2 separate regions of the Homo sapiens genome follow, and region 2 is linked to region 1. The links come from fine-mapping of genetic effects on gene expression. A gene starts in region 1. The other region holds a variant in brackets. All regions are shown on one strand. Distances are between the middles of the regions.

Region 1 (5,374 bases):
CGGTCTGTCCATGCGCTTGCATCACGGTCCTCTCAATCAGAGTGATTTTGCCCCTGCAGGGGACATCTGACAGTGTCTGGAGACATTTTTTTTTCGCTTGTCACAACCCAGAGGGAGGCGCGGTGTGCTACTGGCCTGGTAAATAGAGCCCAGGGTTGCTGCACAACATCCTATAATACATAGAATAGCAGCCCCTCCCACCTCCCAACAAAAAACTATCTGGCCCCAAATGTCACAGTGCCAAGGCTGTGAAACACTGGTCTGGACAGAAACATTTCCAGACCCATGTGTTATATGGAAACATCCCTTAGTCCCTGACACTTCAAAGTTCTGTTCTTGACCCCATGGGCTCCCTAGGGACATCTCCATCAGGAAGATCCTTTGTTCCTGACCCCACCTCCTCTACCCTAATGCTGCCCTCCCAGGACCCTGCCTACACAATTCTGAACCTAAGCCCTGATCTAGACGTCCAAGTTATTTTACCTCTGGACCTGCAACCCTTACTCTGGGGCTCATCCTTTTGCATTTCTACCTATGGATTTTATTCTCCAGGTGTGGGACGCCTGCGGTTATTATGCTAATAATAAAACGATGATCATTGATGTGGCACTTCCTTGTGCCAAGTTCTACTTATGCTCACCATAAACCTGAGGTTGGTTCTGTTATTACTACTGTTTTACAAGTGAACCGAGGAGTGGTGGACTTAAGTAAGCTCTCTCAGTCACACAGCCAGCCAGTGGTGAAACCAGGAGTCAACACCAGACAGCGGGGCGCCACAGTCCATGCTCTTATTTTTCCAAGCTACCTTGGTAGGAAGGGGACACAACCATACTTAGCGTCAGTGGAGGGCTCTGTCCTCCACTCAAATGTACACATGCAGAAAACTGACGACGCAGGTGGTTGGCGGGGGCAGCGCACCACTGCTCAACTGGAGATGGTCAGATGCCCTGGTATGTGGACAAAGATAGCCCAGTCCGAAGCTCAGAGATGCAAAGTCCTCCAGTATTCACCACTACCTCTGCCTCTGTATAGGGTCAAAGAAAAACGACCACCAGCACCATAACCAACACCTAAACACGGTGATTAGTATGTGACAAGCTCTGTGCAGGGTGTTTCAGCTACGTCATCCCATTTAATCTTCCCAATAACACCCAGGCAGGTGCTATTAATATGCTATTTTACCAAGGAGGAAAGTCATGCACAATTAAACAGTTCCACAGATTTCCAGGGCAGCCCATCACATCTTAGAGCTGCTAAGAATTCTTCCCCTGTGGGCCTCCATTTCCATGGTTACAGTGAGATATACACCAGAAAGGCACAGTCACACACTCATAACCGCAAAGCCACTGACGCTAAGTGGCAGACAGACGCCCAGGCAAGTCACACAGTAACCCAAGGCTACAATAAACGCCCACATCAGCCTGACACTGACACACGCACACACTCCAGAAACACAAATCTTCACAGTCAGCGTCACACACCCACTCCCGGCTTCCCAATGGCTCCATTGTTTCCTTCGCGTGGGTCACGCAGCGATACACATCCGCGGTCCCGACATAGCTCCCTCACACACAGGCACACACGGCTCGCCTCACACGCGGCGCCAACTTCACACTTGGGCGCACAAGCCCCGAGAACCACAGCAGCGAAGGGCGCAAACCCCACGCCGTGGCGGGCCGAGAACCCACGCAGGCGCGAGCCCACCGCCCACGCAAGCACCCGCGCAGACGCCCACGCCATCGTGGATGCGCAAACCCACGCGCGCCTTGGCAGGAACGTCCACGCAGTGGCGGGCGCGCCGCCCACGCCCTCAGACACACCCACACTCTCGCCAGCCCCCTTACCTCGGTCTTCCCGGGCTCAGACCCCGGCGGCGACCACCGAGACAGCCGAGCAGGGACTCAGCGCCTGCGCACTCCCCTCCGGGACCCCGGGACCGCGCGCTGCACCCCCCTTCACACACGCACCACGCATGCGGGCGCGTGGCCCCGCCCCCAAACAAGGCCACGCGGCGTGCGCTCACCCGCCTCTCGGGGACAGTACCACCAGCCCCGGCCTGAGGCCCCGACCCCTCAGCGCCACACGCACAAGCGCGTTCGCACGATTGGTGCAGGCGGACGCGCGAGGTCCCGCGCCTGCGCACACCCCCGAGGCTGGCACGCACACCGGTCTCCTAGGGGACTGGCGCCTGGCCCTGCTTTTCATCCTCTCAGGAGATCACGTGTGGACACTGAGGCCCTTCCTCGAGCTCTTTAACCAAACCCAACCTCCCCAATTCGCCGCCTTCCCCGCTCCCACAACCACACGTTCCCGTGTGAGGGCTTATTGCCTCCAGCCAGCCAGCGTCCTTCGCCCCCACATTCACGAGGTTTGGAGCCGGCCTCACCCGCGGAGGCGGACACCGCCCACCCGCGCGTGCGCACTACGCAGTCATCCTGCGACCTCCAGAATCCACCGGGGTGCAGCGAGGCTGTGGAAAGTCCCACCCAGAACGTGAGGTGAAGAAGGCTTGGGCTGCGCTGGTTCTGCTCTGTCCGGGTCGGAGATGAACTGACCCGGGAGAGCAGCGGAGGGATGTTTCTTTTGGCCAACAGTGGGGACTCACCTGCACGTTTTGCGAAGAGGCCCACAGTCCTTTGCGTGGCGCTCGGACTACATTTCCCAACGGCCCCTGCACGCCCTGGGGGCTGTTCCATGCGGTGTTGCGCCTGCGTAGCCGGCGGGCTGGCAGTGAGACTGACTGCGTCGGGGTTGAGACTGGGTGGATGAGGCTCACCCCGGCGGGGAGAAGGGACGAGGAGGGGCGGACAGCGGAAGGTCCGGGAGTGTCCGCCATAAAGTCGTTTGAGGTGACCGTTGCGTAATTGTGAGTCTGTGAGAGAAGATGTGAAGTATGGCCTCGTCCCGGTCATCTGGGCGTGCGGGTCCCGGGTTTTGATCGCGCGTTTGTGTAGGTGAGACCCACATTGTGTTACCCTGAACATGTGTGAGGACGAACCTTTGTGTTTTCTTATACGTGTGTCTCTGAGGCGATTTTTGTGGTTTTGTACGTGGCGGGGGGCACTGATTTTGAATATGTGTGTATGTTCTGGACATTTGTTTAGCTTCTGCATCCACTTCTGCGGAAGGGCAGAGTTGAGTAGGTGGGAACAGGTACTGTGTGGCCCCACAAAGCCTGAACTATTTACTGTTGACTCTAGAGCCCAGTTTTTGCGGTGTGTACGTCTCTGTGGGGAACCACACATTTTGAATATGTATACTTGTGTATATTTACGTCTATTCTATGACTGCTTTTGCACAATGGCAGGGTTCAGTACTTGCAGCAGAGATCTTGTGGCCCATAAAGCCTAAAATACTATCCGACTAAGGTTTCGAGCCGTAGCCAGTTTTTGTGGATGAGTGTTGTGTGTGTGTGGGAAGCCAGTGATTGATTGATTGATTGATTGATTTGGGACGGAGTCTCGCTCTGTCGCCCAGGCTGGAGTGCAGTGGCGCGATCTCGGCTCACTGCAACCTCCGCCTCCAGGTTCAAGCCATTCTTCTGCCTCATCCTCCCTAGTAGCTGGGACTACAGGCGCCCGCCACCACGCCCGGCTAAGTTTTTTGTATTTTTAGTAGATTCGGGGTTTCACCATGTGGGCTCTTGACCTCGTGATCCGCCCGCCTCGGCCTCCCAAAGTGCTGGGATTACAGGCGTGAGCCACCGCGACCGGCCAAGGAAAGCCAGTGTTTTTGACTCTGTGTGTGTGTACCCGCCTGTGTGTTGAGACCCAGTTTTTGTAGTTGCATAGGTGGGTATATGTGTGAGGGGAACCCAGGGCCTGTGATTTCTTTCTTCCCAGGTGACTCTGAGCAAGTTTTGGGGACTAGGTAGTAGGGAGAATGTGTGAGGAACTAGTTTTGGTTTCCCATTTCTGTGATTAGGTAGTAGCAATAATAAAAATAAAAGCTAACAGATACTACTATTAGGACTTTTACCATTACCTCTGTGACTAGCAGCTAGCACTTACTGATTGTTGTCCCTGGTCAAAAGTGAATTTTTCCATTTAAGGTTTTCTTTAATCCTGTAAGCCGTTCTCTGAGTTGTTCCTTGGAGCAAGTTTCTTTCTAGACTGGAGATTGTTCTAAATACCTGGTAATACTAGAATAAGGGGTGTGGTCAAGAGATCCAAGAAATCTTAGGATAAATCTGTCACTTGGCAGTTTCTTTGTTTTCTTTAAACCACCTCCCAAGAAAGTATGTCATCCTTTCTGCTGTTTTAGGGGCATGTTAGTGCGAAAATCTGGGAAAAAGCTTTATGCCTCAGACTGTCCTAGTTCAGAGAAACCAGAGTGTGTGGGTCGGATGTCTTGGCTCCTGATCAGGCTCTGTTGTGCCCATTCTCCGAATAAAGCAACTATCTCCCAAGACACCCATGAGTTTTCTAAGACAGTTTGTCCCAGAGCCCAGGTCCAGAATCTAGTCCTGGTCTTGGATTTGGTCAGACCTTCCCTCACTCTCACCTCAGGACTCCCCACCACTTCCCCCCCTGCCCCAGGAACCCATGGGAATTACAGGCATAAATTAAATACCTGATCCTATGACAGCTCCAGAGTATCTGGAATCTTTTTTTTTTTTTTTTGAGACAGTGTCTTGCTCTGTCGCCCAGGCTGGAGTGCAGTGGCGTGATCTCTGCTCACTGCAAGCTCCGCCTCCTGGGTTCAGGCCATTCTTCTGCCTCAGCCTCCCGAGTAGCTGGGACTGCGAGTGTCCATCACCACACCCAGCTAATTTTTTTGTACTTTTAGTAGACACGGGGTTTCACCTTGTTAGCCATGATGGTTTCACTCTCCTGACTTCGTGATCTGCCCGCTTCAGCCTCCCAAAGTGCTGGGATTACAGGCGTGAGCCACCACGCCCAGCCCAAGATTTAATTTGTTAAAAAAAAAAAAAAAAAAAAAAAAAGTAGGGTAAAGACGCTAGAAAGTCTAGAGAGGAAGGAGGGATTATTTTACACAGGATGGTCAGGGGAGGCCACTTTGATAGGTGGCATTTAGCAGTGAGGCTTCCTGAACTCAGCATGACTGCTCCGCTTGGCTCAGATTCCAGCTCTGTCCACTGTAGTTGAGGAATTATCCCTAGACAGAGAATGGGGAGATAAAGAGGCTCAGCTTGTTAACAGGTTCCCCTCTCACATGAATCTTTTGTCCACTGCCTCAAAACTGCCCCGATATAGTTTAATTTCGTAGTATGCTATTGTGTCATGCTGCAACTCTTTCAGCTCCAAAAGGGATGGCACCAGGTTCAAGAGGCTGAAGAAGAGACTCAGATCCAGGAAATGAGGCATAGGTTATATGTGAGATGGAACTTACATACAGAGTGGTCCAGTGGTGG
Region 2 (5,374 bases), 91 kb after region 1:
GGCTTTATTATGTTGTTTATGATGTCTGACATAAATTGGATCCAGGAGAGTCCAGTCTAGATGTCACTGTGTGGCCTTGGGTGATTGAGTGTGACTGGGAGGGTGAGTTAGTTTCTGGTGAGCCAGTATCTATGATGCTGTATCTTGGTCAGCTGGGGCTGCTATAACAAAATATCATAGACTAAGTGACTTGACTAAGAGACTTTATTTTTCACAATTCTGGAGGCTGGGAAGTTAAAGTGCTGGCACATTCAGTTCTTGGTGAGGGCCCCGTTGGCTTGCAAATGGGTTACATCCTGCTGTGTCCTCACATGGCCTTTGCTTGGTGGTTGTGTAAACATGGAGACCCCTCCTTCCTCTTTTTTAATAAGTGCACTGACCCCATCATAAGGGTATCACCCTTATGACCTAATCTAAAACCAGTTACCTCCCCAAAGTCCCACCTCCTAACGTCATCACACTAGGGGTTAGGGTTTCACCATAGTAATTTTGGGAGGACATATTCAGCCTATAACATGTTGTGTCATGGTGAGACTGGCAATGCTAGATTTCGTGATTTCCTAAAAAATAAAATAAAAATAAAAAACTAAGCACCTACTATGTGCTGTTTTAGTCACTGAGAATATAACCCTGAACAGGACGGAAGCTGTGTGCCTTCTTGGAACCCTCCTTCCAGCAGGGAGAGATAAAATGGGGTGGGGGGAGGTGAGGGGCGTACCGTATATCAGAGAGCAGTAACTAGTAGGCATGAAATAAAACAGGTTCCACACGCGCACCATCAGAAAGTCACAAGTGTGCAAAGCAGACAAATCCCAATCTCCTCACTTTTCTATCGCGTAGGCCCCGCCCGCGCCCCAAGCCCCGCCCTGTCATGGTTTTCCTCTCCAGAGGGTAGCCGCTACGCCTTACCGACTGCGTTTCAGTGCTGTCCCACTGCTCCTGCACACCCCACGCCTGCGACCCTACCCACCACGGACAGGCGCTCCTGCGAGCTGGAAGCCAGTTCTCTGCGTCCTGAGCCTGGCAGCTGCATCTGAACACTCGGAGCCTGGCGATGGCTTCCAGAAACCCCTGCGCCGTGGGTCGCTTCAGTGAAGGGGCCTGTACTTCGGCGACCCAGACTCCGGGCTGAGAGGCCTCCTAATCCAACCAGGAGGACCAGGAGAGGCCCAAAAGGGGACACAGGGCAGTGACCGCCAGGCTTGGAGAGGAGCCGCTCCTGGCAAAGCCAGCGCCCTATTTCTGAACGCCGCCTCCGTTCCGGACTACACTTCCCAGGGGCTATTGCAGCGGAGGACACGCCCACTTCCGGAAAGGACCCAAAGCCGGGCGAGTGCACGTCCCGCCGGTTGCTGAGGAGAAGGGAGGTCTGGGCGGGGCAGCGGCCGAGGCTGGACTGGGGCGCGGCGGGGGCGGTGTCCTGGTTCCTGTGTGGGCGGCGGGCGTGAGCGTGCGCGTGTGGCCTGGTGGCTGTGAGTGCCCATACGTGGTGAGCGTGCGGTGCTGTGCTGAGGAGGGGCGAGCGCGCGCGGGGATGGCGGCCCGGTGTGTGACTGTCCGGTGCGTGGCCGCGAATCTGCGCCTGCGTGCATGGCCCGGCGGCGTGCGGAAGGCGGTGTGTGTTGGAATGAGTGAAGCACTTTAAGTGGCCAAGAGCAGGAAACCCGGCCGGAGGAGGCTTACCCCGTTCTCCCCTGTATCGACTGCGTAGAGCCCAGTGTGGGCAAAGTCCTAGAGCCCGGGGAAGTTGCCCGGGCGGGGCAGCCTCGGCTGAAGCATTTCCTGTCAGCCCTATCTGGAAGGGGCAGAGCCCAGGACAGGGCTCCATGTCCACAGGACGGCGAGGAGCGAAGACCATGGGGACTGAGTACACAGGTAAGAGTGACAGATGACGGATGTGGCTGCCGGAGTGGACATTGAGGTTTTGGGTGCTGTCTTTCGGGGTTCAGGTGCTGGAGGAGGATGTCCCCCGTTTCTAAGGCTAGTGGACCTGGAAGTCGAAAGATTTGGAGGGTCACCTTGGGTCAGAGTGGAGCTGGGTTTAGTTAGGGAGGGACCTTGACTTGGCCAGAGACACCTAACCAGATAACCTGACTCAGGTCCTTGGTATATCACTAAGGGCCCATGGGAGAGAACACTACCCGTAATATTACCCATTATAGCATTACTTCTGGGTACTCTGCTGCTGTTGAAGGAATAGCTCAGCATTTAGATTTTTACCCGTCAGAGCCTTGTCCCATCTATCACTGTAGGATTTGGGAAGAAGGCGAGATTCACAGCTTCACCCAGAAATGCCGAGGCATTCCAGCCTTTCTATGGCTTAATCACGTTCTAGTCAATAACGGAAGATATCCCCATTCCTTGGGCTTCTCTCCCTCCCCTCTGGCCTCCCACTC[CA/C]ATAAAGAGAAAGGGGGAGGAAGGGCTATTTTTAGCCATATTGTTCTGTGCTTGTTTAGTTTCCTGCATGCTATAGTAATAGCTAATGTTTAATGAGTGTTTATTATGTGCCAGACACAGTTCTAAGACCTTTTGGGAGTATCAGCACCAAACTTCACAACATTATGAAGTAGGAACTACTTACCTCTTTTTTACAGATGAAGACACAGAAGCATAGAGAGGATAAGTAATCACTAGCAAGTGGAAGAACCGGGATTCAGATCCAGAACAGGCTGACTCCAGAGTCACTGGCTGTCATGTAGTTTCCTCAACTACTGCCTCAGGTAGGTTTCTTAGCCACTTTTGACAATTAAAGAAACTGACTCTGAAAGGGTTAAATAACTAAATAGTTCATATGCCAGAACCTCCACTGAGCAGGTTTGGGGTTTTTTTCTTAAAAAGTTTATGACTCTAAGTTCTTAGGTAAAATGGAGATGGTAATATTATATACCTCACAGTACTGTCATAAGGATTAAATGACCTCATACATGTAAAGCACTTGGTATAGTCCCTGCCATGTAATGTGTTCATTTTTATCATCATTATGATAATCCTTTGAGAAGGCAGTGGAATTTAGATGAAAGAAACTAGAATTAATTCAGATACTTTATCCTCTTCCTTCCTAATTAAGGAAACATGGCTCAGTGGAGTCAAGGGACTGCTTCAACACTGTAGTTTGTCACAAAACAAAATGAGATCCTAGGCCTCATGAGGATTTTTTCATTTGGTTGTCTGCAAGTCACATGGACTCTGTTGTAACGAAAGGAATGCCTCTCTCTGGAAAAGATGGAATTCTCCATGGAATTTGTCTTATAGAATGTTCACAAATCCTGGCCAACTGCACAGAGGACTTATTTTCTGTTATTTTCTGGTATATGAGCAAATAACTTCTGTGATAGAGTCAGCCAGACCTAGGTTGGTGACTAGGTTATTTACAAATTTGTGTGACTTGTGGAAAAGACTTGACTTCCCAGAGCTTTCTTGTGTAAAATGGTGACAATATACCCGATTCTGTTTGAAGATTTTGGAGATTTAAAGACAGTATTAATATATGCAGCACAGACATGGTGGCTCATGCTTGTAATCCCAGCACTGTGGGAAGCCAAGGCAGGAGGATTGCTTGAGGCCAGGAGGTTGACCAGATACCTAACTCCAGGAGGTTGACACCTCCTGGCCTCAAGCAATATAGTGAGCAATTGGGCAATATAGTGAGACCCCCATCTCTATCAAAAGTAAAAAAACTAGCTGGGCATGGTGGCACATGCCTGTAATCTTAGCTACTTAGGAGGCCTAAGCAGGAGGATCCCTTGAGCCCAGAGTTTGAAGATACAGTGAGCTATGATCACGTCACTGTACTCCAACCTGGGCAACAGAGTGAGTCCCTGTCTTAGAAAAAAAAAATGTACACACACACAGGCTAGTATTAATAAATCTGTTGTTAATGAATTGGTGGCTGATGGGGAGAGGGGGTCAAGAGATATTATGCTCATCCTGAAAACCCAGAGCAGAGGGGAACCCCAGCTATATATTTCAAGTCTCCCAAAGAGCATCAGGACTGTGGGGTGGGGGAGTTGGAGTGAGGACTGTGAGTGAGGACAGAAGAAGCTGAAGGGAAGAAAGCATTTTCAGACTTTGATTATTAGTGCTACTTGGTTTCTCACTACTTCTTTTTCTCCCCAGCTCTACAATCCCAGAGTAAAGCTCTTCTCCAAATGAAGAGCCAGGAAGAGGTAGAGGTGGCAGGAATTAAACTTTGTAAAGCCATGTCCCTGGTGAGTTAGTATTCCCCCTCTCCCCACTAAAATAGTTTTGCTTTTCTGGATTTGGTAATACTTGTTTTCTTCTGAAAATATTGTGCTTAAGAGTTCCACCCTGAGGCCTGTTTCCTGTTTCTTCCCTTTCTGATATGTGATGGGGTTGTGAGTGAGGGATAGACTCACACAGCCCAGTGCCCTCTCAGAGGTTCCTTCTCTCCTTCCTGCTCATTGTTTATTTTTCATTCAGGAAATGACCCAGTCTGAGCCCTTCCCTTGTGCTCAGTCTTTTCATAGGCATCTGACAAAGCAGAAGTACAATCCTCAGAGGAAATTTCCATGCCTGGTTCCTAAGTCTCAGTCCTGATTCTCAGAGAGGTTATAATCTGCTGGAGAAATGAAAAGGCAGCAAACACTTACGCAGTGTGAGAAGTGCTGCAAGCAGAGAGTAGACTCACAGTGGAATACTTGGGAAGGGCCATTAATAGCCCATATGATGTCTTTGGGTGAATTAGAAAAAAAAGTGCCCCTTCCTCTCTACTGATGAAGCTCTGTAACAGGCCGCACAATATGGCAAGAGGAAGTCTACCGTATTTTAGCTCCTTCCTGCCTCCTTGGTGAGGGATCCTTGAGCAGGATATAGCCTGCACCATCCTACTCACTGCTGAGGGCAGGAAGGGTTGGGGGGACTTCACAGAGGAAGTGATTCCTGAGTTACGCCTTGAATGAAATGGAGGAAGTGCAGGCATATGGGATTGATGGCATTCTGAACAGAGTATGCAAAGGTTTGTTCTCCCCATTTGACCATGGAGCCGTGAACATCTTAAAATGCCAAGGAATGTTTTACATCCTTTCTTCTTTCTAGGTTGAATACCATAATCTGTTTAGTCAGTCCCTTGTTGTTCCGTAGGTAAATTGTTGACAATTATCTGCTGTTAATAGAGTGTTGCAGTAATTATTCTTGTAGTTGAATTTTTGCCCTCATCTCTGATTATTTTCTTTGACTAAATTCCTAGTTTTTCATTCCTTGTGGATTAAAGTTTCTCAAACTGACCCTACCCTAGAACATTTTAAATTTTATTATTTTTATGGCCAACAATAGAAGCTTCAGAGCTACAGTTCATGTTCTGATTAAGATAAACTGTTAATCTAGTTTCACCAGCAAATTGCTTATTGTAAGAAAG

Evidence for each region. PIP is the estimated chance that this variant, and not a neighbour inherited with it, causes the effect.
Region 2: its variant is fine-mapped to the expression of ZNF667-AS1 in left ventricle (GTEx, PIP 0.99).

Annotation. Positions count from the first base shown.
Region 1 is chr19:56,475,428-56,480,801 of GRCh38, forward strand. ZNF667-AS1 (ZNF667 antisense RNA 1) reads left to right here and starts at 2,447. Exons shown (of 2, transcript NR_036521.1): 1 at 2,447-2,954. ZNF667 (zinc finger protein 667) reads right to left here and starts at 1,918. Exons shown (of 7, transcript NM_001321356.2): 1 at 1,845-1,918.
Region 2 is chr19:56,566,164-56,571,537 of GRCh38, forward strand. ZNF470-DT (ZNF470 divergent transcript) reads right to left here and starts at 1,858. Exons shown (of 2, transcript XM_047439806.1): 1 at 910-1,858. The coding sequence starts at 1,858. The coding sequence ends at 920. ZNF470 (zinc finger protein 470) reads left to right here and starts at 1,305. Exons shown (of 6, transcript NM_001001668.4): 1 at 1,305-1,875; 2 at 2,595-2,720; 3 at 4,117-4,208. The coding sequence starts at 4,149. RefSeq lists enhancers at 985-1,034, 1,045-1,254, 1,635-1,744. The variant CA/C (reference allele first, on the strand shown) is at 2,397.